4 separate regions of the Homo sapiens genome follow, and all the other regions are linked to region 1. Evidence: fine-mapped expression QTL. A gene starts in region 1. Each other region holds a variant in brackets. All regions are shown on one strand. Distances are between the middles of the regions. Region 1 holds the start of ARPC3 (actin related protein 2/3 complex subunit 3). Region 2 overlaps FAM216A (family with sequence similarity 216 member A). Region 3 overlaps PPTC7 (protein phosphatase targeting COQ7). Region 4 overlaps GLTP (glycolipid transfer protein).

The links. PIP is the estimated chance that this variant, and not a neighbour inherited with it, causes the effect. A credible set is the group of variants that fine-mapping cannot tell apart.
Region 2: its variant is the best candidate, but not a certain one, in a credible set for the expression of ARPC3 in monocytes (BLUEPRINT, PIP 0.71).
Region 3: its variant is the best candidate, but not a certain one, in a credible set for the expression of ARPC3 in monocytes (TOPMed, PIP 0.62).
Region 4: its variant is the best candidate, but not a certain one, in a credible set for the expression of ARPC3 in whole blood (INTERVAL, PIP 0.74).

Annotation. Positions count from the first base shown.
Region 1 is chr12:110,448,428-110,456,555 of GRCh38, reverse strand. ARPC3 (actin related protein 2/3 complex subunit 3) reads left to right here and starts at 6,219. Exons shown (of 7, transcript NM_001278556.2): 1 at 6,219-6,301. The coding sequence starts at 6,296. It overlaps GPN3 (GPN-loop GTPase 3), which reads left to right. Exons shown (of 8, transcript NM_016301.4): 5 at 626-741; 6 at 874-970; 7 at 2,685-2,813; 8 at 3,460-4,070. The coding sequence ends at 3,522. RefSeq lists enhancers at 6,006-6,105, 6,811-7,663.
Region 2 is chr12:110,477,243-110,485,370 of GRCh38, reverse strand. It overlaps FAM216A (family with sequence similarity 216 member A), which reads right to left. Exons shown (of 7, transcript NM_013300.3): 3 at 172-293. The region is part of intron 1 of LOC124903016 (a long non-coding RNA gene); the gene reads left to right. Among named protein-coding and RNA genes, the nearest start is that of FAM216A, 12 kb to the right of the region's middle. The variant A/GA (reference allele first, on the strand shown) is at 3,282.
Region 3 is chr12:110,552,390-110,560,517 of GRCh38, reverse strand. The region is part of intron 1 of PPTC7 (protein phosphatase targeting COQ7); the gene reads left to right. Among named protein-coding and RNA genes, the nearest start is that of PPTC7, 27 kb to the left of the region's middle. The variant C/T (reference allele first, on the strand shown) is at 4,532.
Region 4 is chr12:109,857,745-109,865,872 of GRCh38, reverse strand. It overlaps GLTP (glycolipid transfer protein), which reads left to right. Exons shown (of 5, transcript NM_016433.4): 2 at 7,132-7,190. Among named protein-coding and RNA genes, the nearest start is that of GLTP, 19 kb to the left of the region's middle. The variant C/T (reference allele first, on the strand shown) is at 3,216.

The DNA.
Region 1 (8,128 bases):
TTAGATGGGAAAGGAAATTAAAATGCTGTCTAAATTGAAATTTGTGATCACTGTATGTTATCTATATCTTCCCTCACCTTTGGGAACCAAGAATCAAGCATTTGATTCCCAATGATTTGGGAACATTTTTTTCTATATGGCTAGCATTACTTTTAATAAAATATAAATAATTTTGCCTTTTCCACATGTTCTGAACTGGCATTTCTTTTTTTTTTTTTTTTTTTTTGAGACCAAGTTTTGCCGTTGTTGCCCAGGCTGGAATGTGGTGGCGCAATCTTGGCTCACGGGAACCTCCGCCTCCTGGGTTCAAGTGATTCTCCTGCCTCAGACTCTTGAGTAGCTGGGATTACAGGCACATGCCACCATGCCTGGCTAATTTTGTATTTTTAGTAGAGACAAGGTTTCACCACGTTGGCCAGGCTGGTCTTGAACTCCTGACCTGAGGTGATCTGCCCGCCTCAGCCTCCCCAAGTGTTGGGATTACAGGCATGAGCCACCACGTCCAGCTTGCATTTCTTTTATTTAGGCCAGTTCTGTTCCAGTGAGGAATAGAAGACTCTTTATGCAGACCAGGTAACTGTTGGCAACAGTCAGTTCATCTTCCCTTTTCTGTTTCCTCCTTCAGTTTATTTCTGGCATCTTGGCAGCCCTGAGTGCCATGATCTCTCTAGAAATTCCGCAAGTCAACATCATGACAAAAATGGATCTGCTGAGTAAAAAAGCAAAAAAGGAAATTGAGAAGTGAGTTCACTGTTCTTCCATTATTATCAGATCTCAGTTGCAGAGATGAACCTTCTGTTTTATTTAGATGGGAAGTTTGGCTGGTTTATAAACCTAGTCTCCTGAATTCATCAGTCTTTCTGTCTTTTAAAGATTTTTAGATCCAGACATGTATTCTTTATTAGAAGATTCTACAAGTGACTTAAGAAGCAAAAAATTCAAGAAACTGACTAAAGCTATATGTGGACTGGTAAGCTTTTAAAGTTTGGATTTTTTGGCCAGGTGCAGTGGCTAATGCCTGTAACCCTAGCACTTTGGCAGGCCAAGGCAGCAAGATTGAGTCCAGGAGTTCAAGACCAGCCTGGGCAACATAGTGACACCCTATCTCTAAAAAAATTTTTTAAATTAGGCCAGGTGCAGTGGCTCACACCTGTAATCCTAGCACTTTGGGAGGCCAAGGCAGGCTGATCATTTGAGATCAGGAGTTCAAGACCAAGCCTGGCCAACATGGTGAAACCCTGTCTCTACTAAAAATACAAAAAAAAATTAGCTGGGCATGGTGGTGTGCGCCTGTAATCCTAGTACTCGGGAGCCTGAGACAGGAGAATCACTTGAACTCGGGAGGCGGAGGTTGCAGTGAGTTGAGATCATGCCACTGCAGTCCAGCCTGGGCGACAGAGTAAGACTTTGTCTCAAAAACAAAAAAAAATTAGGCCAGGCGCGGTGACTTACGCCTGTAATCCCAGCTCTTTGGGAGGCCGAGGTGGGTGGATCACCTGAGGTCAGGAGTTTGAGACCAGCCTGGCCAACATGGTGAAACCCCATCTCTACTAAAAAATACAAAAATTAGCCAGGCGTGGTGGTGCATGCCTATAATCCCAGCTATTCGGGAGGCTGAGGCAGGAGAGTTGCTGGAACCCAGGAGGTGGAGGTTGCAGTGAGCCGAGATCTTGTCATTGCACTCCAGCCCGGTCCAACAACAGCAAGACTCTGTCTCAAAAAAAAAAAAGCCAGGCATGGTGCTGCACGCCTGTAGTCTCAGCTACTGTGGAGGCTGAGGTGGGAGGATCCCTTGAGCCTGGGAGGTCAAGGCTGTAGTGAGCCATGATCAGATCATGTCACTGTGCTCTAGCCTAGGCAGCAGAGAAACCCTATCTCAAAAAAAAACAAAAACAAAAAGGGCGCCAGGTGTGCAGTGGCTCACGCCTATAATCCCAGCACTTTGGGAGGCCAAGGCAGGTGGATCACTTGAGGTCAGGAGTTCAAGACCAGGCTGACCAACATGGTGAAACCCCGTCTGTACTAAAAATACAAAATTAGCCGGGCATGGTAGGGCACACCTGTAATCCCAGCTACTCAGGAGGCTGAGGCAGGAGAATTGCTTGAACCTGGAGGTGGAGGTTGAGCAACAAGAGCGAAACTCTGTCTCCCCAAAAAAAAAAAAAAAGAAAAAAAAAGATGAAGTTTTTTGGGTTTTTTTCCTAAACACCTGGTCAAGTGTTTGCCTGTGTCCAGTCATTTGCCATATAAAAAGCACAGTTCAACCCTATTTTCTGCAAAGTGGAGGGAAAAGGGCTGTGGGCTGGTCAGTCAGCAGTTTAATTTAGAAGTAGTTATTGGTAGTGGCCAATAAATAAACTAACATCTTATTATTTCAAGCCATTTGGAGAGTTCAGGACTGTTTGTTCTCTTGTGAAATTTCCAGTGGTTGTTGAATTCAGATAAATAGCCGTGAAACAGTGTCTAGTTAAAGTAATAAGCTAACAAGTGTTCTAGCAGATCAGAAGTCAGAAAAATCAATGATTTACTCTCTGTGTCTAGCTATCCCTTCTCCTCCTCTTCCTGTAAACACATCAGTGTTTTTATTCAGAAGTACAAATGGTTATAAAACTCAAATATAAGTTGAAAATTATGTATTTTGCACAACTTCAGAATGAACTTTTCTTGAAATCCACAACTTGTAGATTGATGACTACAGCATGGTTCGATTTTTACCTTACGATCAGTCAGATGAAGAAAGCATGAACATTGTATTGCAGCATATTGATTTTGCCATTCAATATGGAGAAGACCTAGAATTTAAAGAACCAAAGGTAATTTCTGGTTTGGGGTGTTTGTTAGCTTTTGATAAAAATATTTGCCAGCACTCACTGGACTCTTGCATAATCCAGGCGACTCCTTAAATTAGTTTTTTGTCTTATTGATGGCAGTTAACTGGGCTTTTCTGGGTGATCTCTGAAATTAACACTGTACTCCACAAGCAGTATCACTTTTACTCTACTTTTGTTGAGGCAGTATGATGAAGCCTGTGTGTACTTAGAGCTTGGGTGTATGTGTAAAGAGGAGGTGAAATTGGGCTGCCCTCACGTATGTCATTGAGAAGACTAATGATAGTATCAGCTAAGCATTTTTTTATTTTTTTATTTTTTATTTTCCTGACCACTAGACTACCAGCGAAGTAAAGCACTATCACAGGAAATTAGCCAAGAATCGTCTTGAATGTAAATTCAAATGAGAAATGCTTCTGGGATAGAAGCACATTAATTTACTACATAACTGGAAAAAAATCTGTCAATCATGCCTTTTCTTACTATTAACAGTTACCTATAAGCAGCACCTGGAGCTGGTGCTGGGTAATTAGTTCCACATAGGGTATTACCTGAAAAATATATAAACACATACTAGTTCTGACTGAGGGGAAATGAATATATTTTCTATTTTGTGTTTCCATTGTGTCAGGAACGTGAAGATGAGTCTTCCTCTATGTTTGACGAATATTTTCAAGAATGCCAGGATGAATGAAGAGTTTACTAAAAGTAACCATCTAAAGAGCTTGTGGCCAAACCAGCAGAACATTCTTCTCTTCAAAGGATGCAATAGTAGAAAGCTACTTATTTTAATGAAAAAAAGTAAAACTTCGTTCTTTATCAGCCTCATGCCTGAATCAAATTTTTAATTATTCTGAAACTGCTGCTGTTTAAAGTGGAATCTTTTAGTATTATAACAGCATCACTTTAGATTTTGTAAGTCAAAATTGAAATGAATGCACATAGATTTATATATAAATTAGCACCTGAGCTAAGGTTAAGGCTGGTCTAAACTTATTTTCACTTTTTGTATTATTTTTGAGATGCAGGAATTACTGTAACAAAATATGTATGTCCGAAGGGAAAAAGCTGCAAGGATATATATAAGACCACTGCTTATCTGTATCTTCCCATTTTCCTATATTGAAAATGTATATTATTTATATAACTTAAAAAGTAAAAATAACTATGTTTTGAGATATGTATGTGTATATATAAAAGAAACAAAGGTTTTTAATGATTCTTGGACCTAGATAACAAGTACACTGCAGTGTCTAATTTGATTCATTTTAATTAAGCAAAATGTGGCCAAGCGTGGTGGCTCACACCTACAATGCCAGCACTTTAGGAGGCCGAGGCAGGTGGATCACCTGAGGTCAGGAGTTCAAGACCAACCTGGCCAACATGGTGAAAGCCTGTCTTTACTAAAAATACAAAAAATTAGCTGGGCGTGGTGGCGCGTGCCTGTAATCGCAGCTACTTGAGAGGCTGAGGTGGGAGAATCCCTTGAATCCAGAAGGTGGAGGTTGCAGTGAGCCAGGATCGCACCATTGCACTCCAGCCTGGGCAACAGAGTGAGACTCCATCTCAAAAAAAAAAAAAATGTGAGGACCTGTAAGTATCGGTGGTAGCTTATGCCTGGGGGCCAGGCTAGAGGGAAGGGTCGGGTGTCTACCCCATGGTCCACTCAGGGAGGAGCATGATGAGTGGGCAACATGGGGATGTGCTGGGCTGCCTGGGGACCTTCCTGTGGCCCTTAGAGGATAGATAGTGTGGAAACAGCCTGATCTCCCAGGGTTGCTAATTCTTAGAAACTTATTGTCACATGGGAGGGGAAGAAAGAAGAGGCAGATTTTCAGTTGCCCTCTTCCTTGGTCCTCCCTGGTTTAGCTTCTAGAGAGTATGGTATGTGCCTGTGGAGAAAAAGTGAAGGACCCGATTCCAGTGCCTTCCCCACTGGACACTGGGGTTTCAAAGATGAATCTGACAATTCCAGTCCTCGAGGATTTCACTGTCTCATAGGCAGGGCTGACAGAAATTCAGTAAATTTACACAAATTTACTGAAGTTCCGTGGATGCCAGACACTGGGGATAGAACAGGGATGCACAGTGCAGGCAGGGCCTTGCTCACGTGGGGCTGCCATGCTGGGCCTGTGAGACTGACCATGAGGAAGGAAACCTCAGAGAGAGGATGGAAAGAAAAGCAGAAAAGAAATGGAGAGTGATTATGGGGCTACTTTGGGCTCTTTGTCAAAAAAGACCTTGCCTAAAAGGTGCTATTTGCCCAGTCAGCTGAATGTGAAATCAGATGTGGGAACATGGGGTCCTATTTCAGGCTGGGAACTGGCAGAAGAAATGGCTCTCAGGCAGCAATGAACTTGACTTTTAACATAAGAAGTTTTCTAGTAATAAATAAGTTAAAACTCTGGGCTTTCAGTATGCTCCAAGCATGTAAGTTCTAAGCATTTTACATGTAATTCATTTCATCCTCACAAAACTATGAGGTAAATACTGTTACTGCCATTTTCAGGTGAGGAACTGAAGCACAGGCCAGTTAACTTGCTCAAAATTACAGAGCTAGTATGTATTGGAGCTGCGATTCAAACCTGGAGTCCAGTGCCCTTCAGTTTCTCCATTTTTAGATGCAGTGCATTGGGTTCATTCATTCACTCAAATATTGATGTTTCCTACATACCGTCACTGTTACGGGCGCAGGTGACAAAACGGACGAAGTGCTGCCTTTTTGGCATTCACAAGCACTAAGAGTAAACTAAATACAAGAATCGTAAGAACTAAGGGAAAAAGCGGGAGAGAAGGATAAGGCATGGGGCTGGAGTTGGGTGAACTGAAAATAGAATGAACGGAGAATGCTTCACAGGAAAGGTGATTTTTTTTTTTTTTTTTTTTTTTTTTTTTTGAGAGAGTCACACTGTCATCCCGGCTGGAGTGCAGCGGCGCGATCTTGGCTCACTGCAACCTCTGCCTCCTGGGTTCAAGCGATTCTCCGGCCTCAGCCTCCCGAGTAGCTGGGATGCTACCACGACCAGCTAATTTTTGTATTTTTAGTAGAGACGGGGTTTCACCATCCAGGCTGGTCTCGAACTCCTGACCTCAGGTGATCCACCCGCCTCGACCTCCCAAAGTGCTGGGATTACAGGCGTGAGCCACTATGCCCGGCCCTGAAAAGGTGACATTTGAAAAAAATACAAAAGAGGTGATTGATCTCAGATTCTGGAACCTCAAGACCCATCTCCATTCTGGGCGCTGCCTCACGCTGCACCACTCAAGGCCCCTGCCTAGTGCTCTGGCGCCTCCTTCAGATCCGCGCGGCCGCTGCAACCAGAAGCGGAACTGCAAGGCCGGAAGCTCCACGTCCGCACCCGCCCCTTCCGTTTCGCTTCCGCCTACCTCGCCCAGGCTGCCAGACCGGAAGCGCTCCGCTGTACCTGGATCCTGCTCCTCTGGGTTGAAACCCGGGCGCCGCCAAGATGCCGGTGAGGGTTCGATCCACGGTGTGGGGAGACAGCGGGGATTGCGAAGAGCAGAGAGAAACCGTGTGTGTGCCGAGAGAAGCGGGCGGCGGAAGGCAGAGAGGAAGCTGGGGCCCGAGAAGGAGGGAGGCGAGGGGAGGGGACCGGTTGCTGAAGGATTGGGGCGGCCCGGGGGTGCCAGTCGTGGGAGGCGGGGGCGCGGCAGGAGTGGGCCAAGGGTCCAGGGTGTGTGAGGAGGCCCTTTTCTCTCTCCGTCTACTCCTTCCGACTCCGGCAGGGTTCCCAAAGCCTCACTAGAGAGCGAAGCCAAGGGCTGCGCTTTTTATTTTTCATATTTCAAGTCCAGGGGTCTAGCTTCTCCTTTTTCTGTCAGGCCCACTTCCTCCTCCGCCCCGGGGTCAGGCTCCCTCTGCTGTTTGTCATTTGTCAGAACCCACTTCCCGGCAGCGGCGGCCATCCCGGAGCCAGCTGGGTTTAGGGCCCTCACAGACTCGTTCGGCGCCTGACTTCCAAAGATTTCCTTTTTCGTGTGCCATCAGAGTGGGAGTAAAAAATTATGACGGCCTGGTTGTACTTAATTTCTGACAGCCAGTTTGTGGGGTAGATTTATCACCGTCATGGTCTCCATTTTGCAGATTCGGGAAAAGGTGGTTCAGTTATTATGTGATTGTTCACACTTTTTTTGTTGTTTGTTTTTTGAGAGAGTCTCGTTCTGTCGCCCAGGCTGGAGTGCAGTGAGGCGATCTCGGCTCACTACAACTTCCACCACCCTGGTTCAAGCAATTCTCGTGCCTCAGCCTCCCGGGTAGCTGAGATTACAGGCGCGCGCCACCACGCCCAGCTAATTTTTTGCATTTTAGTAGAGACGGGGTTTCACCATGTTGGCCAGGCTGGTCTGGAACTCCAGACCTCAGGTGATCCGCCCCCTCGGTCTCCCAAAGTGCTGGGATTATAAGCGTGAGCCATCGCGCCCAGCCTGCTCACACATTATTTTTAACAAACGTTAACGAGCACCTGCTGCCTGCCAGGCTGTATTTACAGCAGCAAATAAGTTCAACAAATCCCTAATCTTAAAGAATGTACATTCAAATCGGGAGTCGAGACAATAAAAGTGTAAACATAATAAAGGAGATACATACGGTAGTGTCAGGTAGTGACAAATGCTATAAAGAAGCTAGATGGGTGGTCAGGCGCAGTGGCTCACGCCTGTAATCCCAGCACTTTGGGAGGCCTAGGTGGGCGGATCACGAGGTCAGGAGTTCAAGACCAGCCTGGCCAACATGGTGAAACCCCATCTCTACTAAAAATACAAAAATTAGCCAGGCGTGGTGGTGCGTGCCTGTAATCCCAGCTACTTGGGAGGCTGAGGCAGGAGAATCGCTTGAACCCAGGAGGCGGAGGTTGCAGTGAGCCGAGACCGTGCCACTGCACTCGTCTAGTGACAGAGTGAGACTCTGTACCACCACCCCCCCCCCCCCCGGAAAAAAAGAAGCTAGATGGGTAACAAGACAGTTGGTGAGAGGGAAGGCGGAGGCTGCTTTAGATAAAGCATACCTGTGATGAAAAGGAGCAAGCCATAGTTGCAAATACATTTTTTTTTTTTTTGAGACAGGGTGTGACCCTGTCTCTCAGGCTGCAGTTCAGTGACACAAACTCGGTTCAGGTGATCCTCCCACCTCAGCCTCCTGAGCAGCTGGGACTACAGGTGTACGCCACCATGCCCAGCTAAGTTTTTGTGTTTTTAGTAGAGACAGAGTCTCACCATGTTGTCCAGGCTGATCTCAAACTTCTGGGCTCAAGCAGTCCTCCTGCCTCACCCTCCCTAAGTGT
Region 2 (8,128 bases), 29 kb before region 1:
TTTACATTCATTCATGAGTTTACTCAAAGATATTTATTGACTCCTAGACAATTATACTGCATATGCCTTGTCATCTGCAGTATCTCACCCTCTAAGCAGCTGATCTTCAGTAAAAAGTTCGGCTCTGAATACAAAGAGTATTGGTATTTAAATATGTCCCTGTTAGCATACCTTGAAAAAGGACGCCTCCATCATTGATTTAGAGAGGTGGATTGTTTGATTTTGGGGAGTTTTCCATAACTCTTGCAGCTTAGCTATGTGTGAGTTCACTTTGTATCCATCTTTGATTCTATCTGTAGGCAAAGACATCATGTGAATTTCAGAGGCAAAGATCAGTTCAACAAACTGAATTATTAAGATCTAGATATTTAGGCCGGGTGTGGTGGCTCACGCCTGTAATCCCAGCACTTTGGGAGGCCGAGGTGGGTGGATCACGAGGTCAGGAGATCGAGACCATCCTGGCTAACACGGTGAAACCCTGTCTCTACTAAAAATACAAAAAATTTAGGAGAATGGCGTGAACCCGGGAGGCGGAGCTTGCAGTGAGCCAGGATAGCGCCACTGCAGTCCAGCCTGGGCGAAAGAGTGAGACTCCGTCTTAAAAAAAAAAAAAAGATCTAGATATTTACATGTGTCAGTGATTATCCTGGAGTAGTACTGAATATTTTCACTCAGACTTAAATTTGAAGAGACTGTATGGTATGCCATTTGGTTTTAGAGCACACAAACAACATCAAAGATACTTGTAAATAAATATTTTATTTATATATAATACATTATTTTGAACTCAGCTAAGATGCAAAGTGTTGACAGTAACATCATGTCAGAAACATACCAAAGAGAAAATATACACGCAGGATTTGTGCTTTAATGATTTACAGTAATATTTTATTATCATTTAACTTTACTATATAGTTTTTTTTTTTTTTTTTTTTTTTTTTTTTGAGACGGAGTCTCTCTGTGTCCCCCAGGCTGGAGTGCAGTAGCGCGATCTCAGCTCACTGCAAGCTCCGCCTCCCCAGTTCATGCCATTCTTCTGTCTCAGTCTCCCGAGTAGCTGGGACTACAGGCACCTGCCACCATGCCCGGCTAATTTTTTGTATTTTTAGTAGAGATGGGGTTTCACCGTGTTAGCCAGGATGGTCTCGATCTCCTGACCTCATGATCCTCCGCCTCAGCCTCCCAAAGTGCTGGGATTACAGGCGTGAGCCACGGCGCCCGGCCTAACTTTAGTATATAGTTTTTTAAATCTTTTTTTAAGAGATGGGATCTCTGACGCCCAGGCTGGAGTGCAGTGGCATAATCATAGCTCACTGCAGCCTCAAACTCCTGGGCTCAAGAGATTCTCCCGCCTCTGCCTCTCAAGTAGCTGGGATTATAGGTGTGAGCCACTGCACTCGGCCTTAAAATTCTATTCTGTATTAGACTAGAGTAACACAAATTTTATCCCTTTGGAGATGTAGTATTAACATGAAAGACTGCAGAAATTTATCAAAATTTATTTTTACATAGTTTCAGTTATTTCATTTTTTGTTGTTGATTTTTGTTTGTTTTTGAGATGGGGTCTCACTCTATTGCCCAGGCTAGAGTGCTGGCACAATCTCAGCTCACTGCAACCTCCACCTCCCAGGTTCAAGCGATTCTCCTGCCTCAGCACCCCAAGTAGCTGGGATTGCAAGCATGCACTACCAGCTAATTTTTGTATTTTTAGTAGAGATGGGGTTTTACCATGATGGCTAGGCTGGTCCCAAACACCTGACCTCAGGTGATCCGCCTGCGTTGGCCTCCCAAAGTGCTGGGATTACAGGCATGAGCCACCATGCCCAGCGTATTTCATTGTTTTAAAAACAGTTGTGGACAGCATAAAAGAATAACCTTTTAGTAAAAAATAAAAGTTGAAACATATTCCCAGAAGAATGGGAACTGGTTTTCAGTTTCAGACATACTGAGACTAGTAATTTAGGGTATAAGCTTCACTAGCAGTTTTGGGAAAAATAGTCTCTGACAATTAAATCACGAAATGCCTCTTTTTTTTTTTTTGAGAAGGAGTCTCGCTCTGTCGCCCAGGCTGGAGTGCAGTGGCACCATCTCGGCTCATTGCAAGCTGCAAGCTCCACCTCCCGGGTTCACGCCATTCTCCTGCCTCAGCCTCCTGAGTAGCTGGGACTACAGGTGCCCGCCACCACGCCCAGCTAGTTTTTGTATTTTTAGTAGAGACGGCGTTTCACTGTGTTAGCCAGTATGGTCTTGATCTCCTGACCTCGTGATCTGCCCGCCTTGGCCTCCCAAAGTGCTGGGGTTGCAGGCATGAGCCACCGCGCCTGGCCCCGAAATGTCTCTTTTTATAATAATACATCCCTCTTCCCTGCACACTCCCTTCTCCAGGCAACCACTGATGTGCTTTCTATTACCATAGATTCATTTGCATTTTCTTGAGTTTGATATAAATGGGAATACACAGTACTCATTTTTTGTCTGGTTTTTCACTCAACCTAACGATTTTGAGATCCACTCATGTCACATGTAACAAATAGTTCATTTATTTTTATCATTGGGTTATCTTTTTTTTTTTTTTTGAGATGGAGTCTTGCTCTGTTGCCCAGACTGGATTGCAGTGGCGCCATTTCGGCTCACTGCAAGCTCCGCCTCCCAGGTTCATGCCATTCTCCTGCCTCAGCCTCCCGAGTAGCTGGGACTACAGGCGCCCGCCACTGCGCCCGGCTAATTTTTTGTATTTTTAGTAGAGACGGGGTTTCACCATGTTAGCCAGGATGGTCTCGATCTCCTGAGCTTGTGATCTGACCGCCTCAGCCTCCCAAAGTGCTGGGATTACAGGCGTGAGCCACCGTGCCCGGCCTGTTGGGTTATCTTCTATTGTATATATGTTTACACTGTTATTTGATTATGTACCTGTTGATAGACATTTGGGTAGTTTCCACTTTTTGTCTATTACAAATAAAGCTGGAAAGACACATTTTAAGTTAAAAGTTTGCGTCCGGGTGTGGTGGCCCATGCCTGTAATCCCAGCACTTTGGGAGGCTGAGGCGGGCAGATCACTTGAGGTCAGGAGACCAGCCTGGCCAACATGGCAAAACCCTGTCTCTACTAAAAATATATAAAAGTTAGCCAGGTGTGGTGGCGTACACCTGTAGTCCCAGCTACTCAGGAGGCTGAGGCAGGAGAATCTCTTGAACCCAGGAGGTGGAGGTTGCAGTGAGCCGAGATCGCAACACTGCACTCCAGCCTGGGTGACAGAGTGAGACTCTGTCTCAAAAAAAAAA[A/GA]AAGTATATAGTTAGTTGAATTCAATAAGCACATTTTTGTTTCAATATTATTAATAACAGGCTATTTCAGTTTTGTATTAAACTTTAAATTTAGTTATTTCTTCAAGATTTTGGCAAGTTGGATACTACAGGTAAGGACTAACTAGTTGACCAAGAAATGGAAAATCATTTGGAAATTGTATTATGACCCTTGAAACATAACTTATAATCTGTAATAATATGAATGCCAATTTAAGATTTTTAAAAGTTTTTTGTTTTGGAAATCCTTTTTCAAGTTGTAAACAGAGGCTATTTATATAAGAATATGAATTGTGTCCTTAATAAACAATATTTCTGAGATGCATATTATATTTTGGACCAACACTTAATTTCTCAATAGCTTGATAACATTTCTTTACAGAAAATGAAGCACTTAAAAATAAATAGGCTGGGCATGGTGGCTCATGCCTGTATAACCCCAGTACCTTGGGAGGCTGAGGCAGGCAGATCACCTGAGGTTGGGAGTCGAGACCAAGCCTGGGCAACATGGTGAAACCCGTCTCTACTAAAAAAAAAAAAAAACCACACACACAAAATACTTAGCCAGGCATGGTGTCACACCCCTGTAATCCCAGCTACTTGGGAGGCTGAGGCAGAAGAATCACTTGAACCTGGCAGGCAGAGGTTGCAGTGAGCTGAGTTACTGCAACTGCACTCCAGCCTGGGTGACAGAGTGAGACTGACTCAAAAGAAAAAGAAAAATAGTATGGCAGTGCCTCGAACATTTAAACATAGAATTGCCATATAATCTAATAATTCCACTTCTGATCCAGCAATTCCAAAAGAACTGAAAGCAGGGACTCAAACAGATTATTTATCCATGCTCATAGCAGCATTACTTCATAATAGCCAAAAAGTGGAAGAAACCCAAGTATCCATCAACAGGTGAATATATAAACAAAATGTGGTATATACAAACAATGGAATATTATTTAGCTTTAAAAAAATAAGAGAATTCAGACACATGGTACAATATGGATGAACCCTGAAGACATGCTAAGTGAAATAAGCCAGTCACAAAGGACAAATATTGTATGATTTAACTTTTATGAGATACCTAGGAAAATCAAATATATACGGAGTGAAAGAATGGAGGTTGCAAGAGGTCAGGGGAAAGGAGGTATATAGGGAATTAGTGGTTTTTTATTTTGTTTTTAAATTTTCTTTTAGAGACAAAAAAAACTAAAGTTAATTTTATGTTGCCCAGGCTGGTCTCAAACTCCTGGGCTCCAGCGATCCTCCAGCCCTAGCCTCCCAAAGTGCTGGGATTACACACACGAGCCACTGCACCCACCTGAGAGTTAGTGTTTTATAGGTACGGAGTTTTAGTTTGGGAAGATGAAAACTTTCTGGAAATGGATGGTGGTAGTGGTTGCACAACAGTGTGAATATACTTAATGCCACTGAAATGTACACTTAAAAATGATTAAAATGGGCCAGGTGCATTGGCTCATGCCTATACATCCCAGCACTTTGGGAGGCTGAGGCGGGCAGATCACTTGAGTCCAGGAGTTTGAGACCAGCCTGGCCTACATGGTGAAACCCTTAGGCTGGGCGTGGTGGCTCACACCTTTAATCCCAGCACTTTGGGAGGCCGAGGCGGGCGGATCACGAGGTCAGGAGATCGAGACCATCCTGGCTAACATGGTGAAACCCCGTCTCTAGAAAAATATAAAAAAATTAGCCAAGCATGGTGGCAGGCGCCTGTAGTCCCAGCTACTCAGGAGGCTGAGGCAGGAGAATGGCGTGAACCCGGGAGGTGGAGCTTGCAGTGAGCCAAGATCGTGCCACTGCACTCCGGACTGGGCAACAGAGTGAGACTCCATCTCAAAAAAAAAAAAAAAAAAAAAAAAAAAATTAGCTAGGCGTGGTGGGGGTGCACCTGTAATCCCAGCTACTCAGGAGGCTGAGGCAGGAGAATCGCTTGAACTCAGGAGGCAGCGGTTGCAGTGAGCCGAGATCGAGCCATTGCACTCCAGCCTGGGCAACAAGAGCGAAACTCCATCTCAAAGAAAAAAAAAAAGATTAAAATAGTAAATTTTATATTATGTATATTTTACCACAAATAAATAGTTAACCAACCCAAGAACTTTTGAATATACTGCTTGGACTATATGCCCTCAAACAAAAACAACTCTAAGCAAATACTGATCTCTAATTAACTACTAGGCTTTTTTTTGTTGTTTTGTTTTTTGTTTTTTTTGGGTTTTTTTTTAGATGGAGCCTTGCTCTGTCGCCAGGCTGGAGTGCAGTGGCGCGATCTCTGCTCACTGCAACCTCCAACTCCCTGGTTCAAGTGATTCTCCTGCCTCAGTCTCCCAAGTAGCTGGGATTACAGACACGCGCCACCATGCCCAGCTAATTTTTTGTATTTTTAGTAGAGACGGGGTTTCATCATGTTGGCCAGAATGGTCTCAATCTCCTGACCTCGTGATCCACCTACCTCAGCCTTCCAAAGTGCTGGAATTACAGGCGTGAGCCACTGCGCCCAGCCTACTAGGCTTCTTTTTTTTTTTTTTCAGAAGCATGTGTTAGCACTTTAGAAACTACTTTTTTATACATCTTAGGACGAAGCAAATAATATATTGTAGTTAATAAGCAGGTCTCACACTTTTGGAGACGAGTTACCTATTAATATGGAAAGAGGAAAGCACAGAATAAACCCTGTTTGTTGGATTGGAATTTGGAGTTAGTAGAAATATTGAAATAGATATGTATGGGTATGTATGTGCTCACAGGTAAATGCACACACATTTCTTTCCCAGCACTGTCCTCGGAGAAAGTCTAGAAGCAATGAAAGTATATTATAAATAAGCACACCTAGCACCCAGATCTTGGTTTCTACGTACTCTTCTCTACTTTAAATATATAATTTTTTTTTTTTTTTGAGACAGAGTCTCGCTCTGTTGCCCAGGCTCACTGCAAGCTCCGCCTCCCAGGTTCACGCCATTCTCCTGCCTCAGCCTCCCGAGTAGCTGGGACTACAGGCGCCAGCCACGACGCCCGGCTAATTTTTTGTATTTTTAGTAGAGACGGGGGTTTCACCGTGTTAGCCAGGATGGTCTCGATCTCTTAACCTCGTGATCCACCCGCCTCGGCCTCCCAAAGTGCTGGGATTACAGACGTGAGCCACCGCGCCCGGCCTTAAATATATACAATTTTTTAAAAAGGGGCTCTATGTTAGTTTCATTTTGCTGCCATAACAACACAACTTTAGCGGCTTAAAACAACACTCACGTATTGACTCATAGTTCTATAGCTCAAAAGACTGAGTATAACATGAATCCACTGGGTTCTCTGCTTAGAATCTCACAAGGCCAAAATCAAGGCATCGGGGTGCCTGGGCTGGACTGGGGTGCCTGGAGCCTGTAGTGGTTCATTCAGGTTGTTGGCAGAATTCAGTTCCTTACAAAACCAAAGTCCCTATTTCCTTGACATGTGGCTCTCTTCATCTTCAAGCCAACAATGGGGTGTTAAGATCTCTCCTTTCACATCTAACTGCTTCTCTTCCCCACATCTGTCTGACTTCAGCCAGAGAAACTCCTCTGCCTTGGGCTAGGCTGGGCCCACCCAGAAAATTCAAAATAACATCTCTTTTGAGGGTTATAACTTAATTTTACCTGCAAAATTGCTCCTGCCATGTAACATAACATATTTACAGGTTAGAGAGATTAGAGTGTGAACATCTTTGGGGACCATGCTGCCTACCACAGGCTCTTTGGAGAAATGGCAGACATCAAGGGTAGAACAGGGACAGTACAACGTTTTGTGCTAAAAGATAAAAGTTTTCAAAGGATAATGGAGACAGAGAACAAGAGCCATCTTTAAAGGGCTCCCACTGGCCAAATCTGGGATAATTTGAGCATCAAAATAAATAACAGATTTAAAGTAAAGTATTTAACCTATTCAATGGTATAAGAATCCATGTGTTGACAATTATATAATAAATATATAAATTGAAAAATGGTAGAGAAAGGGAAGCTCTTCATTAGAAAGCCATCTGAAAAATGTAGAATCAATGATGGAATTAGAAAAAGTCCATATGGCTGGGCACGGGGGCTCACGCCTGTAATCCCAGCACTTTGGGAGGCAGAGGTGGGCAGATCACAAGGTCAGGAGATTGAGACCATCTTGGCTAACATGGTGAAACCCCGTCTCTACTAAAAATACAAAAAATTAGCCGGGCATGGTGGCAGGCACCTGTGGTCCCAGCTACTCGGGAGGCTGAGGCAGGAGAATGGCATGAACCCGGGAGGCGGAGCTTGCAGTGAGCCGAGATTGCGCCACTGCACTCCAGCCTGCGCGACAGAGGGAGACTCTGTCTCAAAAAAAAAGAAAAAGCACATATTTCTAGCCATCTTAATCATAATGGATTTAGTCAAGAATGGATGACAAGACTGGGCGCGTTGACTCACGCCTGTAATCCCAGCACTTTGGGAGGCCGAGGCAGGTGGATCACGAGGTCAGGAGATAGACACCATCCTGGCTAACACAGTGAGACCCCGTCTCTACTAAAAAAAATACAAAAAAATTAGGCGAGCGTGGTGGCGGGCGCCTGTAGTCCCAGCTACTCAGGAAGCTGAGGCAGGAGAATGGCGTGAACCCGGGAGGCGGAGCTTGCAGTAAGCCGAGATTGCACCACTGCACTCCAGCCTAGGAGACAGTGCGAGACTCCGTCTCAAAATAAATAAATAAATAAATAAAAGAATGGATGATTAATGGATGAAAGTTTGAGAAGTAATAGGCTATATACAAAGTCTCAAAGTATATCCCCATATACTTTTACCTTTACAAAGGGTAAGAATCAT
Region 3 (8,128 bases), 100 kb before region 1:
TTCTTATAGTAAGCCTTTTGCAATTACACAGTTAGGTGACTGTGTAATTGGGAAGATAGGATTTTTAAGATAGCTATCATTTGGTTATAACTACCTTTTTTTATTTTTTATTTTTTGAGACAGGGTCTCGCTCTGTCGCTCAGGCTGAAGTGCAAGTAGTGTGATCACAGCTCATTGCAGCATTGACCTCCTGGACTCAAGCAGTCCTCCCACCCTCAGCCTCCTGTTTAGCTGGAACTACAGGTGTGTGCCACCATCCCTGGCTGATTTTTAAATTTTTTTGTAGAGACGGGTTTTGCTATGTTGCCTAGGCTGGTCTCGAATTCCTTGGCTCAAACAATCCTCCTACCTCAGCCTCCCAATATGCTGGGATTACAGGTATGAGCTACCACGCCTGGTCATAACTACCATTTTACATGGTTATACCATTTTGGCAAAGACAAAAACATGTTAATTAGAAAAATGAAAATTGCTTAAGAATTTTCTTCTTGGCTGGGCTCAGTGGCCCATTCCTGTAATTCTAGCATTTTGGGAGGCCGAAGCAGGAGGATCACTTCAGCCTAGGAGTTCAAGACCACCCTGGGCAACATGGCGAGGACCCATCCCTACAAAAAATAAATAGCTGGGTATGGTGGCACATGCCTGTAGTCCCAGATATTCAGGAGGCTGAAATGGGAGAATCTCTTGAGCTCAGGAGTTTGAGGCCGCAGTGAGCTATTACTACACCACTGCATTCCAGTCTGGGTGACAGAGTGAGACCCCATTTCTTTTTTTTTTTTTTTTTTTTCCCCTGAGGCTGAGTCTTGCTCTGTCGCCCAGGCTGGGGTGCAGTGATGCAATCTTGGCTCATTGCAACCTCCACCTCCCAGGTTCAAGTGATTCTCCTGCCTCAGCATCCCAAGAAGCTGGGATTACAGGCACGCACCACCACACCCAGCTAATTTTTGTATTTTTAGTAGAGACGGGGTTTCACCATGTTGGACAGGCTGGTCTTGAAATCCTGACCTCAAGTGATCTGCCCACCTCGGCCTCCCAAAGTGCTGGGATTACAGGCGTGAACCACCACGCTGGGCCCGAGACCCCATTTCTTAAAAAAAAAAAAAAATTTTTTTCTTCTTATAAACACTTAATGATGGCAGACACCCAGAATTACTCTTTTTGCTTCCCTTTTTAACTCTTAACTGTAGAAACCAGGCATGGTGATTTGTGCTTGTAATCCCAGCACTTTGGGAGACTGAGGCAGGAGGATCACTTGACCCCAGGAGTTTGAGACCAGCCTGGGCAACATAATGAGACCGCATCTCTACAAAAAAAATTTTTAAAAAAATGAGTTGTGTGTGTTGGTGCATTCCTGTAGTCATAGCTACTCTGGAGGCTGAAGTGGGAGGATCCCTTGAGCCCAGGAGTTCAAAGTTGCAGTGAGCTGTGTTTGCACCACTGCACTCCAGCCTGGGTGACAGAGCAGGATGCTGTTAAAAAAAGAAAAAGGGAAAAAGCATCAGTCTATGGAAAACTTAATAAAATACTTTGTAAAAACATAAATACTGTAACTATTTTCTAATTGCTCGTTTTGCTTCATAAAACTGACATTTCCATTGAAAAGATAAAACTAGCCTGGGCACGGTGGTTCACACCTGTAATCCCAGCACTTTGGGAGGCCGAGGCGGGCGGATCATGAAGTCAAGAGTTTGAGAACATCCTGGCCAACACGGTGAAACCCCGTCTCTACTAAAAATACAAAAAATTAGCGGAGCGTGGTAGCTACTTGGGGGGCTGAGGCGGGAGAATCACTTGAACCTGGGAAGCGGAGGTTGCAGTGAGCCAATATCGCACCACTGCACTCCAGCCTGGGCGACAGAGCGAGACTCCGTCTCAAAAAACAAAAACAAACAAAAACACTAAAGGATTTTTCTGTGCCCTATGGTCTCTTCTCAATCTTTTGCTCAGCTATTTCTGATATGTAACCATTATCTTAATCTAATAGTGATTTTAATTGGATTTTGGGTCAAGGGAAACACTTAAGCTAGATGTGTGCTCACAGAATGTTATTAATGGAGACATAAGATGATTACAGTGAATTAAAGGAAATAGCTTCTATATTCGGTGCAACCTCTTTATCTTGGCATTCAAGGCCCTTCTAGTCATTAATTCAGCCTCCTTTTTAGCTTCACTTCTCTCTACCTCCATAGAGATTATATCATTCTGACAAACTGGATACCCTACCACTAAGGTATCAATTCTCAGATTTTCTGGCCCCAACTTGCCTTGCCAGCCGCAAACTCATAGTTCCTCACTTTATACACAACACTTCCACAAAGATGCCCTGCTGGCACCTGAAGTTTGACATACCCAAGACAGAATTAAATGTCTTTTAAAGGCATTTACACACCCTTGCCAACTGTAGAATAATCTAATCAATATTTTCTAATTCCCCAAATCCAGAAACAGTAGTTCCCTCTTATTTGAGGTTTCAATTACCCACTGATGTGTTTTGGCATTGTCCCCACTCAAATTTCATCTTGAATTGTAGTTCCCATAATAATCCCCATAAACCCTCATGCTGCTATTGTGATAGTGAAGTTTTCATAAGATCTGATGGTTTTATAAGGGGCTTTTCCCCCTTTGCTCAGCACTTCTCTCTCCTGCTGCCATGTGAAGAAGGATGTGTTTGCTTCCCCTTCTGCCATGATTGTAAGTTTCCTGAGGCCTCCCCAGCCATGCAGAACTGTGACTCAATTAAACCTCCGTCTTTTATAAATTACCTAGTCTCAGGTATTTCTTCATAGCAGCATGAGAATGGACTAATATACCCACATTACCTAACAATAATACAGACAGAGACCACATTCACACAACATTTATTATAGTATATTGTTATAATTATTCTGTTTTATTATCGTTGTTAACCTCTTGAGTATGCCTAATATATGTGTTAAACTTGGCCAGATCCTGTGGCTCATGCCCATAATCTCGGCACTTTGGGAGGCCAAGGTGTGAGATTGCTTGAGCCCAGAAGTTTGAGACCAGCCTGGACAACATAGTGAGACCCTGTTTCTACAAAAACTTAAAAAAAAAAGTAGCGGGGTGTATCAGGGTGTGTCTGTAATCCCAGCTACTAAGGAGGCTGAGGTGGGAGGAATACTTGAGCCCAGGAGTTCAAGACTGCAGTGAGCTATGATCAGGCCACTACTCCAGCCTGGGCTAGAGTGAGACCCCATCTCTTAAAAGAAAACAAAACTACTACTAAGTCATTTTAGTTTTTCTTTTGTTGGTACTAAGTTTTTGGAATCCAGAATGTATTTTACACTTCATAGCAAGCACTTCTCAATCCAAACAAGTGAGATTTTAGACTCAATAGCCACATGTGGCTAGTGGCTCCCATGTTAGACAGCACAGGTCAGTAGCATAAAGAACTTTAGAGTTCTTGAACTGGCATTCTTGATTTTCTACAACTTTCGCTACTGCCCTTCATTTTTCAGCTTCTCCCTGCTCACCCAAGCCCCAGCATCTAGTTGTCTGCCTTTCTTTTCCTCTTGTTATCCTTCCCTGCCGTGGAAATCTGGCTGACCCCTGCCAGGGCCTATCCGAATGCCACTTTCAGAGCAGGCTGGCACTGTTCTTGAGGCGCTGCATTCTCGTGGTGTCCGTAAGCACTAACCACTGGCTGTTGACCCTCCTGCAGCAGTGTTTATGGGAGCCGTTTGTCTGGTTTCTCTGTGAGAAGTCTAGCACCCCACTAGCAGGGGAGCTTCTCAGAGACCGGCTTTCTCAGCCGTCTTATTTCCTAGCGCAGCATGCACAATGTGGTGGTCCACGTGTGGCCTCCATTTGCTCTTAGGGTATTCTTATTCTTATCCTTTGCTGTTTGATAGTTGTGTTCCTGACATCTTTGGGATCTTAAGCAATTTCTCCTTTAACAGTTTTCTTTACCTTTGACATGTATTCTGAATGAAATTTCCCTTTATATCTGGATCAGTTCCACTGTTTAAAGGGTATTCTTGCTCTTTGCAGTCTGAAGCTTTTGCTTATGCAATAGAGGACATATTAATTTCTGTGTAGAAACAACCACCTAATATGAATAAAATTAGGTTTCATATGTACGTGTAGTAGGTTATTCTAGTTTTAGTCTGATTCTCATCCCAAATACAACTCTTCCCCTTATATAATTTAGTTATATATATGCACTGTATTAAGGCTTTTTTCCCTGCAGCTTTATTGAAGAGTTTATATGCTTTTTGAATTTCTCTCTCCCCTAAAGAGATTTGGTCAGTGGTGTTTTGCTTGGCATCCTTTGCCCGTGTAAAAAAGCAAACAGGTGCCCAAAAGGTTGTGCTGTATTCTGGGAGAAATCTGATTAATGTTGAAGGGCTGTGTCAGGTCAGACTCAACCTGCTGACAGATTATTTAGTGAGTGCGAGGATCGAGGATCAACTCTAAACGTTATCTTAGATTTTAATGGTTTTCTTGTGAAGAGCATTTGCAGATGAAACCAATTTGTATTTAAAGTTAATTGTAGTTGTACCAGAGACTA[C/T]TTAAGAAGAAATTCTTCCCTGAAGCAGGCAGTGGTTTGAAAAGAATGAATGATTCATCAGATAGTGTTGCAAGGCTTATAATTATATTCTGTGTTTTAACATAAATTGTTGTGTTTTAAATTATGGTGAAATCTTACTCCTAGTAAAATAAGAGTTTCTCCAAAGAAGTTCCTATTGAAATGATCTTAAATTCTTTTAATATAAGTTTCCCAAACCTCTTCACAACTCCTTGAAAAACAATGAAATGTGCTGTTCCTTGTAAGATAGATCCCTAGTTAGCCCGGTTGCTTCTCTTTCCCTCACCCCTCAATCCACGTGTTCTGTTTCATGGATACCAAATGTCTGCACGCCTCTAACCACACTGCCAGCAGATTGCGAGTGGACTATGAAATGGATCTCTTACTTAAACTCCTTCCGCTCTTGCTCTCCACACAGCAGGCAAAAGGGTCTTTTTTCTTTTTAAACTTGTTATCATTGTTATTATTTAAATGTTGTGTTATGGAAAATTTCAAATATATATCAAAGTAGAGAGATGGGTGTTCTTCTTATTCAGCTTCAACAACGATCCATTCATGGCCAGTCTTCTTTCATCTGTGCTTCTGTCACTCCCCCTTCAACCCCTTAAATATTTTGAAACGAATCCCAGAGTTTTTATTACTTTAATTAGCTAATTTGGAATTGCCCTGTCATGAAATTTGGTTTATTGGTTGGTCACATAGGTGGGGAAAGTTGCTGTCCCAGTGGTGATACACTATTTGTTGCCTTCTTTATGTCTTCCAATTCTGTTTCCTCTTACTTTTTCACGATGTGTTCCCTTTCTTTTTGTTAACTGCCATCCCCAGAGAAATAGTTTCACATGTCCAATTCATGTTAAGCCAATTTTTCAGGGATGTATATATAGGCACTCTGCTACTTTTGTACCAAATACATTCTTAAAGTTGAATGTACAAAAAATAAATGTGTGTATGGGAAGGATGTTTCATGCTCAGAAAGTTTTAAAAATTAAAAAATCCCTGTTTTAAAAAATCATATGATACATGCTCATGATAAAAATAAAATTAATACAGAATGGTATGAAGTAAAAGGCAAAAATTCCCATTTTGTTCATGGATCGTTTTCAGTTCCTTATTTCTAAAGCAACCATTGCTAATATTTCTTATGGATCCTTCCAGAAAGGCCATTTAAAGCCTTAATAATGTATATTTTTGACATTTTCTCTCAGTGTCTTTGAATTTAGTAGATAGAAATTGGTTTTAGTGTTGGAAAGAATAGCTTGGTGTTTTGCAAGAGTTTGAGTAGAAGATTGTATGATGGCTTTGATATTTTATTGACTTTCATAAACACTAATTTCCTCTTGATAAAGGAGCTCTAAGCAGACTCTGAACTCATCAGCAACTCTTTGGGCCTACGAAAATCTCTATACTAGTACTATCCAGTAGAAATATAATGTGAGCCACATATGTAATTTTAAATTTCCTAATATTCATATTAACTAAAAATAAAAAGAGGCCAGGCATGGTGGCTCACGCCTGTAATCCAAGCATTTTGGGAGGCTGAGGCAGGAGGATCACTTGAGCCCAGGAGTTCAAAATAAGCCTGGGCAATACAGTGAGATCCTGACTCTGTATTGCCAGACAAACAAAAACTAGCTGGGTGTGGTGGCATGACCCCGTAGTCCTTGCTACTCAGGAGGCTGAGGTAGGAGGATCACTTAAGCCTGGGAGTTCAAGACTGCAATGAGCTGTGATTGTAACACTACACTCCAACCTGGACAACAGAACAAGCCACTGTCTCTAAAAATAATAATAGTTAATTTTTTAAAAGGTGAAATTTGGCCGGATGCAGTGGCCGATGCTTATAATCCCAGCACCTTGGGAGGCCGAGATGGGCAGATCACTTGAAGTCAGGAGTTTGAGACCAGCCTGGCCAACATGGCAAAACCCTGTCTCTACTAAAAATGCAAGTCAGGTGTGGTGTCGAGCACCTGTAGTCCCAGCTAGGGAGGCTGAAGCAGGAGAATCACTTGAACCTGGGAGGCAGAGGTTGCCATGAGCTGAGATCACGCCACTGTACTCCAGCAGCCTGGGCGACAGAGCGAGACTCTGTCTCAAAAAAAATAGGTAAATAAAGAAAGGTGAGCTCAGTCTTGATAATGCATTCTCTTTGGTGCATTATATCTAAAATATTCTTTTTCTGTTTCATTTTTTGAGACCAGGTCTTGCTGATCCACCCACGCTGGAGTGCAGTGGCGTAATCATGGCTCACGGTAGCCCCAACCACTGGGGCTCAAGCAGTCCTCCCGCCTCAGCCTCCTGAGTAGCTGGGACTACAGGTGCACACCACTATGCCTGGCTAATTTTTTTATTTTTAGTAGAGTCAGGGACTCACTGTGTTGTCCAAGCAGGTCTTGAACTCCTGAGCCCAAGTGATTCTCCCACCTTGGCCTCCCAACGTGCTGGGATTATTGGCATGAGCCACCATGCCTGGCCCAAAATACAATTTCAGTATGTAAGTAATGAATATAAAAATTAGAGATTTTGGGGGCCGGGCGCAGTGGCTCATGCCTGTAATCCCAGAACTTTGGGAGGCCGAGGCTGGCAGATCATGAGGTCAGGAGATGAGACCATCCTGGCTAACACGGTGAACCCCTTCTCTACTAAAAATACAAAAAAGCCAGGCGTGATGGCACGCACCTGTAGTCTCAGCTACTCGGGAGGCTGAGGCAGGAGAATCCCTTGAACCCAGGAGGCGGAGAGGTTGCGGTGAGCCGAGATCACGCCACTGCTCCAGCCTGGTGACAGAGCGATGGAGTTTCACTCTTGTTGCCCAGGGTGGGATGCAATGGCGCGATCTCGGCTCACCGCAACCTCCACTTCCCAGGTTCAAGCAATTCTCCAGCCTCAGCCTCCTGAGTAGCTGGGATTTCAGTTGCCTGCCACCACACCCATCTAATTTTTTGTATTTTTAGTAGAAACGGGGTTTCACCATGTTGGTCAGGCTGGTCTCGATCTCCTGACCTCAGGTGATCTACCTGCCTCAGCCTCCCAAAGAGATTTTACTTTTTTTCATACTAAGTTTTCAAAATCCACTGTGTGTGGTTTTGTTTGTTTGTTTGTTTTTTTGAGACGGAGTCTCGCCCCATTGCCCAGGCTGGAGTGAAGTGGCACGATCTTGGCTCACTGCAAGCTCTGCCTCGCGGGTTCACACCAATCTCCTCCCTCAGCCTCCCAAGTAGCTGGGACTACAGGCGCCTGCCACCACGCCTGGCTAATTTTTTGTATTTTTAGTAGAGACGGGGTTTCACTGAGTTAGCCAGGACAGTCTCGATCTCCTGACCTCGTGATCCGCCCGCCTCGGCCTCCCAGAGTGCTGGGATTACAGGCGTGAGCCACCGCGCCCGGCCCACTGTATGTTTTATACTTAGAGCATGTCTCAAGTTGGGCTTCCCTCATTTCGGGTGCTCAGTAACCATGTAAGGAATGGCTGTTGTATTGTACAGTACCGCCCTCTACAGGGTAGAAGGAGAGGGGATGGGATATGTTCTCAGTTTTGTTCTTTATTTCCCAGCGATTGACCAATGTTTGGAGTTAAAAGGT
Region 4 (8,128 bases), 590 kb after region 1:
TTAAACAGAAGGGGCCGTTTGCCAGCTGTTCCAGATAACCAAGGCTTTACTGTATTTGGAATCTGCTCACTCTAGTTGGGTCTGTGAAAGAAGATGGTGGGACCACATCTGATTTTTCTTTTTTTAAAGACAGCTTCAGGCCAGGCATGGCGGCTCACGCCTGTAATCCCAGCACTTTGAGGGGGCCAAGGCTGGCAGATCACTTGAGCCCAGGAGTTGGAGACTGGCCTGGGCAAAATAGTAAGACCCCGTCTCTATTTTTTTTTTTTTTCAAACAGAATCTCACGCGCAATCTCAACTCACTGTAACCTCCGCCTCCCAGGTTCAAGTGATTCTCTTGCCTCACCCTCCCAAGTAGCTGGGATTACAGATGTGCACCATTATGCCCAGCTAATTTTTGTATTTTTAGTACAGATGGGGGTTTCACCATGTTGGTCAGGCTGGTCTTGAACTCCGGATCTCAGGTGATCCGCCCGCCTCGGCCTCCCAAAGTGTTGGGATTACAGGCGTGAGCCACCATGCTCGGCCTGACCCTGTCTCTATTAAAAAATAAGAAGAAGAAGAATAAATAAAAAATGTTTAAAAGACAGCTTCCTTTCTCCCTGAAGGTCATGAACTAGAAAACCCTCCAAGTCCCTTCCCTCCCTCCAGGCAGACAGGTTCTGGGTGGCATTTCAAAGAGGCTGTTTGCTGACAACAATTGAAAAAAACAAGTTTGGAGTAACTGCAAAACTGGTCAAACAAGAAGGGTAATTTGGGGTTAAGGCTGCATTCTGTAGGAAAGGGAAGGCTTGAGAGCCTGGTAGAAACATGTCATGCTGTATTCAGAGCAGGCACAGGCTTGAATTTAAACTCTTAGAGGCTGGGTGCGGTGGCACACGCCTGTAATCCCAGCTTCTGGGGAGCTGAGGCAGGAGAATCACTTGAACCCGGGAGGTGGAGGTTGCAGTGAGCCTAGATTGCGCCACTGCACTCCAGCCTGGGCAACGGAGTGAGACTCTGCCTCAAAAAATAAAATAAAATAAAATAAGTAAATAAATAAAATAAACTATTAGAAAAGCCACCACATGCTTGGGAATTAAAATCGTCTTCTGGTTTCCTATTTTCTCTGAGTTCACAGGACCTCAAAGAAACATTCTTTGAGTTCAAAGAATGGTAACATTCTAGACAGAAAGGTTAAGGGTGTAGTGGAAGCAGCTTTGGCTCTGGAATTGTGTCTGAGTTCCTGGCACTCCCTGGAGTGTAACCTGGGCAAGTCATTTGGCTTTTCTGTGACTTGATGTCCTTGGACTGCACCAAAGGCAAACATAAGCCCAGAGCCTTGGGTGGGTGATGTTGAAACAGGCTTCAGCCCAACCATATACAGAGCACTTCCTGTTTGCATAGCACCTCTGGGCTGTAGAAACCGAAGGGCCTGAACCTGGAGTGGTTAAGTCACTTGGCCAAACTCACACCAGAGCTGAGATTCAAACCCAGGACTGTGGATGCCACTGCTTCAGTGCCACTGCCCAGGTTGACGCCACTGCTAATTGCAGGCAGCCCACCTCCAGATGCTTCCAAACCCACTTCAGCGTGCTTGTTTATGTAACACAGAGATGCATACAGAGCTGCCTTTCCTGCTGGTGGCTCCCTGTGGGTAGAGCATGGAAGTAGTCTGGGGTCTTGTTCCCAGCCCCTGCCTCGCCTCCCCTCTCTTCTGCTAGGCTCCCAGCCCCAGAAGTGCATTTGAGGCCCCACATTCCTCCCCTACTGTTGAGCGGGAGCTCTGGCCCTGTGTGGTGGCCCCACACACAATAACAGCTGCTGTTGGGGCCCAGCTTCTGCTGACCATGGTGGCCTCGTGACCCTCGTAGCTCATGGTTAGGAGAACACAAAACAAAAAGCCTTTCTCCCTGCCACCAGGGCAGGGCTGCTCAGAACTGCACAAGGATGCTGCATAACATTTTTCTGCATCTCTGAAATGCATGTTGAATGACCGGAGTCATTAAGAAAAGCTAATAAGCCACCCATGGTCGATGGTGATCTGTCATCAGGCCCTGCCGTCATCTCTTCTTCACTGGAAGGCTTTGGTTGAAAACCAGCCAGTGGCAGTAAAAACAATCGTGGTCAGTGCTTTGAGCCCTCACTTTGCACGTGTGACACCTCTCTCTCACAGCAGCCCTGCAGAAGAACATCCTAGAAGGATATCCGTTTTATAAACAGGGGAACTGAGGCCCAAAGTCCCTTCACATATCCTCTGTCATCTGGGTTGGATAGGTGTTTAAAACCAGTGTGTTGGGTCAGTCTGAACCATAGGAGGGTACAGAGATGGAGAGCCTGGCAGGGAAATACGCTGACAGATTCCACGTTTCCCACAGTCCATTCATTCACTCATTCATTCATTCCACAGATGTCATACAAGTACCAACTGGGGTCAGGCATCTGCTGGGTGCTGGGGGCATAGCAGGGAACCTTGTCCCTGCCCTCTTCAGAGCTCAAGTCTGGTGGCAAGATTGTTGGTTTAAAAAACAAAGGTGTAACACATGTGACTATGATCACTGTAACAGTAAAACAGACTTGAAAGAAAAAGTAGAAAAAGAAATAGGATTTTATGAGCAGAAAAAAAACCTGACATTACTTTTTTCAGTATTTTCTATGAGAAAATTCAAACATGTGGCGAAGCTGAAAGAATTTTACAGCAAATAGTACTCATACACCTATCATCTAGATGTTACCATTAATATTTTACTGTGCCTATCTATCCATATCTCTGTCCATCCATCCATCAGTCTAATGTAAGCCTTTGGACATTATGCATTTTTATTTTTTATTTATTTTTTTGAGATGGAATTTCACTCTTGTTGCCCAGGCTGGAGTGCAGTGGCGCAGTCTCGGCTCACTGCAACCTCTGCCTCCTGGGTTCAAGTGATTCTCCTGGCTCAGCCTCCCCAGTAGCTGGGATTACAGACATGCACCACCACACCTGGCTAATTTTTGTATTTTTATTAGAGATGGGGTTTCACCAAGTTGGTCAGGCTGGTCTTGAACTCCTGACCTCAGGTGATCCACCCGCCTCGGCCTTCCAAAGTGCTGGGATTATAGGCGTGAGCCACTGCGCCTGGCCCACATTTTAATTTTTTTTTAGAGATGGAGTCTCACTCTGTTGCGCAGGCTGGAGTGCAGTGACACAATCATAGCTCATTGCAGCCTTGAACTCCTGGGCTTGAACGATCCTC[C/T]CACCTCTGCCTCCTGAGTAGCTGGGACTACAGTTACATGCCACCACGTCCAGCTCATTATACATTTTGGGAAGATGAGGATGTAAAGCCGTCAGCTGGAGCTGAGGAACAGCCATACGTCTGCATGGGTTTTGCCAGTCCCCATGTAGCCCATCCATGGCACCTGCCTGGCCCCCTGTGAGGGTTGGAATTTGCACCCCCTGGCAGCACTGTAGTCACTGGCAGAGGAAAGAGGATCTTGGCTCCGGCGTTATTATGTAAGTTGAGAATGCACGGTCCTTTCAGAGAGGCAGCAGTAGCAGTGCTGGAAGAGAATACCTTCCAGGGCTAACAAGTGGCATGACCTCCCCAGGCTGGCCTCTACACGCAGCGGAGGTCAGTGATCCATCAGGTGAGGTTAAAGGGTGGCATGGAGTCGTCACCCCATTGATGCTTGGCAGGCCTGTCTGGGAGACCAGAGCACCCTGGATTCTTTGCCCGCACCCCTGGCGCAGCACCTCTGAGCAGCCTCTGACGTGACCACCCTAGGGAAGGCTCCAGCATGGCCCCTTGCTGGGAGATTTGCCTCTGCAGACGTTGGAAAGAGGCTCAGTTGCCGAGAGGAGACTGCTCGTGGCCTAGCATGACGACAGCATGCCCGGAGCTTGCAGCAGGTCAAGGTGGCAGCCCCAGCCCTAGCGGGGCCTCACAGGGGAGCACAGAGAAAGCAGCAGGGGCACAGGTCAAGGATGAGTCCCACTCGATGGAGGTTCTGGGGAATCCTGTGGCTTCCACGATGATGTCATTTGCTGGGTCACAGCACATGACCCTAGTAATGATATGAGGTCATAAAAATGATTGAAGTTCAGGTACTGAGTGTTCACCACTCACCGGGCACTCTGCTACATGTGTTTGGTGCCTTATTTTTTTTTGAGGTGGAGTCTTGCTCTGTCGCCAGGCTGGAGTGCAGTGGCACAATCTCGGCTCATTGCAACCTCTGCCTCCCAGGTTCAGGCGATTTTCCTGTCTCAGCCTCCTGGGTAGCTGGAACTACAGGCACCTGCTACCACGCCCGGCTAATTTTTGTATTTTTAGTAGAGATAAGGTTTCACCATGTTGGCCAGGCTGGTCTCAAACTCCTGACCTTGTGATCCGCCCGCCTTGGCCTCCCAAAGTGCTGGGATTACAGGCGTGAGCTACTGCGCCTGGCCTCGGTGCCTTATTTTTAATTTCTTAAAGAAGCATATGAAATAAGTACTACTATTGCCCCATTTGACACAAGAGGAAACTGAGGCACACAGCGGCGAGGAGACTTGCTTGGCTGGGGAGTGGTCGTGCAGGATTCTCACCCTGTCTGGCTGAATCCCTAGCCCACCTTCTTTCCATTGGGCTATGGGCTGTTTCCTTAAATGTTTAATGCTGTTTCTCTCATGCACCTCTTTTCATAGCTGCAATTAGAATGTTCCAGATGGCTGGCCAGGTGTGCAGGGTCACCCTGGGTGGAATTTGGCTTAAGGAAGTTCCACCCCTAGCCTTCTGCCCTCATGCGGTCACTTGGTGCCCACACTGAGGTCCCTGTCTGGCCTCCTGGGTATTGGCCTTTCACTCCCGTGGGATTGGCACCCACCTCTAGCCTGCTCTGGGGTCTTTGTCCCCTGGGCTCTGTAGCAGGCTTAGTGAGCTCACTTTTCTGGACCGCAACAAGGACAATGAAAAGGTGTCATGGAAGCCCGGTAATCTGTCTTCAGGCTCAAAGGTAAAGTCCACATCTAGCCTGCTCAGTAAAGAACCTGCATACTTCCTGCATGTAAGGGGCAAGATGTCCTGTGACAGCCTGCCATGGGGGTGACAAAAGAGGGAGAGGAGGAGAGGCAGGCAGCAGGCTGCTCACATTTCAGCAGATCCCAGCAGTCCTAGGCACTGCCAGGCAGTTTCCAGGTCTACATTTTATCATCTCCAAGGTGTTACCTATTATATGATGCTCCGACATATTATAACCCACCAAGAAAGGAAAACGCCTCCATTTAAGAACATTCTACTGGGTGTGATGGTGTATCCCTCTAATCCCAGCACTTTGGGAGGCTGAGGCGGGAGGATCGCTTGAGTCCAGGAGTTGAAGCCTGCAGTGAGCTGTGATCTTGCCACTGTACTCCAGCTTGAGTGCCAGAACAAGACCCTGCCTTTATTTTATGCATTTATTTATTTTTATTTATCTTTCTTCAGTTGCCAAAGGACCCTGTCTTTAAAAACACACATAGGTGCATGCTACTATTGAAGACAATGGCGAGAACAAATTAAGAGGGCAGGAGTCCAGGAGTGTATTTCATATAGCCAGCTGAAAACACTTTAAGGCTACCAACAAAGCAAAACCAGTTACCACTAGTCTTAAGAAGATAAACGAGGCTGGGCACAGTGGCTCACGCCTGTAATCCCAGCACTTTGGGAGGCTGAGGCGGGCGGATCACCTGAGGTTGGGAGTTTGAGACCAGGCTGACCAACATGGTGAAACCCCATCTCTACTAAAAATACAAAATTAGCTGGGCATGGTGGCGTGTGCCTGTAATCTCAGCTACTCGGGAGGCTGAGGCAGGAGAATCGCTTGAACCTGGGAGGCGGAGGTTGCGGTGAGCTGAGATTGCACCATTGCACTCCAGCTTGGGCAAGGGGAGCAAAAAGTCTCGGGGAAAAAAAAGTTAAACGTTATGAATGATGAAAAAGTCAACAGAGTAGATAAAGCTTTTGTATTCAAAAACTGCAATTACTTTTGCACCAATCTAATAAATATACGAGATTTGCACACTTCTTAAAAGGACTTTCTCTTGAACCTCTGTAGAAAGAACTGATTCCTCAGCAGCATCATGAAAATAAAGTAGTTAATATTGATGAAGCTACAAAATTAATGGCTCAGTTCTAATATAGTGGTGATGCATCAAATTCCCCCAAAGACCAATAAATCAAATGTTTTATACAATTAAAAAAAAACACATTGTACAGCTCTAGAAAAAAATTCTTTATATCCTTATTCTATGAGCTTTTTTCTATTATAAAAGTTAAGTACTTTTTTTTAAAAAAAATCTTTTTTGTTAAAAACAGACACATTAGCTTAGGTCTACACAAGATCCTGATCATCAAGATCTGTGCAAAAAAAAAATTATTTTTTGAGACAGAGTCTCGCTCTGTTTCCCAGGCTGGAGTGTAGTGGCGTGATCTCCCCTCACTACAACCTCCACCTCCCGGGTTCAAGCAATTTTCCTGCCTCAGCCTCCTGAGTAGCTGGGATTACAGGCGCAAGCCACCACGCCCAGCTAATTTTTGTATATTAGTAGAGACAAGGTTTCACCATGTTGACCAGGCTGGTCTTGAACTCCTGACTTCAAGTGATCCACCCGCCTCGGCCTCCCAAAGTGCTGGGATTACAGGCGTGAGCCACTGCACCAGGCCAAAAATTTTTTTTTAATTAGCCGGGTATGATGGTGCGTGCCTGTATTCCCAGCTACTCCAGAGGCTGAGGTGGGAGGATGGCTTGAACCCAGGAGGTCGAGGCTGTGGTCAGCTATTATCACACCACTGTGCTCCAGCCTGAGTGACAGAGCGAGACCCTGTCTCAAGATAAACCTCAAAGAACAAACAAATACCATTCTGATTCTAGAGATGAATCAAATGTGTGTCTTAGGATTGGATTGTTTATTTCAAGCCATCTTCATCATGCCTCTGTGGTTGGTGCTGTAGCCTCATTTGCCAGATAGGAAACAGGAAGCTGAGAGAACAGAGCTGGGGGCTGCACCCAAGCCCATGCTGCCTTAGTAACATCCAGAACAACTCAGCTCTCCCCGGGACACACCATGTAATCCACCCTTCCATGTCCCCATGGCCTGCGGTGGCCCTGAAAAATCACTCTTGCTGCGAATCTCAATCTGTCTTCTCATTTTGTCCCCAGATTGCCTTGGGTCCCCAGTGTTTACTCCCATCAAGGCAGACATAAGCGGCAACATCACGGTATGTACCTGGCCGGGCAGCCACAGCCCAAGACTTGCGTTAGGAATCTAAGCCCACCTGGGTTACCAGCATCATGGTCCCAGCTGCAAGCTTCCCACCCCAAGGAAGGGAATGGAGACATGGAAGATGGGCCCCAAGCTTGTCCAATCAGGGCTCAATGTTCTCTGCCCTCCTCCACAGTCTTGCCATCTGGTCACCAGTCTAGCCTGACTGGAACCAAAGTCTAATTAAAGGGTTGACCCTGAGAAGGAACCTGCTGGTTCTTTCATCTATCCCCACCAAGTAAGTAAGCTCCAAAGTCTACAGTCAGCACTGGTCTGGCCTTCCCCTTCTCCAATCCTGGTAGTTCCTGATGCCGCCTCCCCAGCCATAGACTGCCTGTGAGAATCCACCTAGGGCCCAGCCAAGGGCTTGGGACACACTGCATGATCTCATTTCTTCATCCCAGCAGCCCTTTGAGGCTGGTCCTGTGTTATCCCCTTTTTACAGATGAGGAAGCTGAGACTCAGAGGGGTTGAAGGACTCGCTTAAGGTCACAAGCAAGTACGTGGCAAAGCTGGGATTCAGACCCAGGCCTACCTGGCTCCATCTCAGAGGCCTTCGTTCCTGGACTTCTTGGAATCCTCGGAACCTATTTCCACTTGTCCACCAAAGCAAAACTTCAGATACTTGGTGTCTGAGGCAGTGTCAGTAGTGGCTGGAGAACATGAACTCTGTACCAACTGTGTGACCTTGGGCAAGTCCGTGCTCCTCTGTGAGCCTCAGTGTCTCTGCCTGTAAAATGGGATAATGACAGCAACATCAGGTTTGCCACCAGGATCATATAAGGTAGTGCCTGTAAAGCATTTTGCAAATCCTGGCTCATGTGAACAGTCATAGTTATTGTTACAAGTCTTATCCCTGCTGTTCCTGGAGGGCAGGAAGGAGCAGGAGATGCC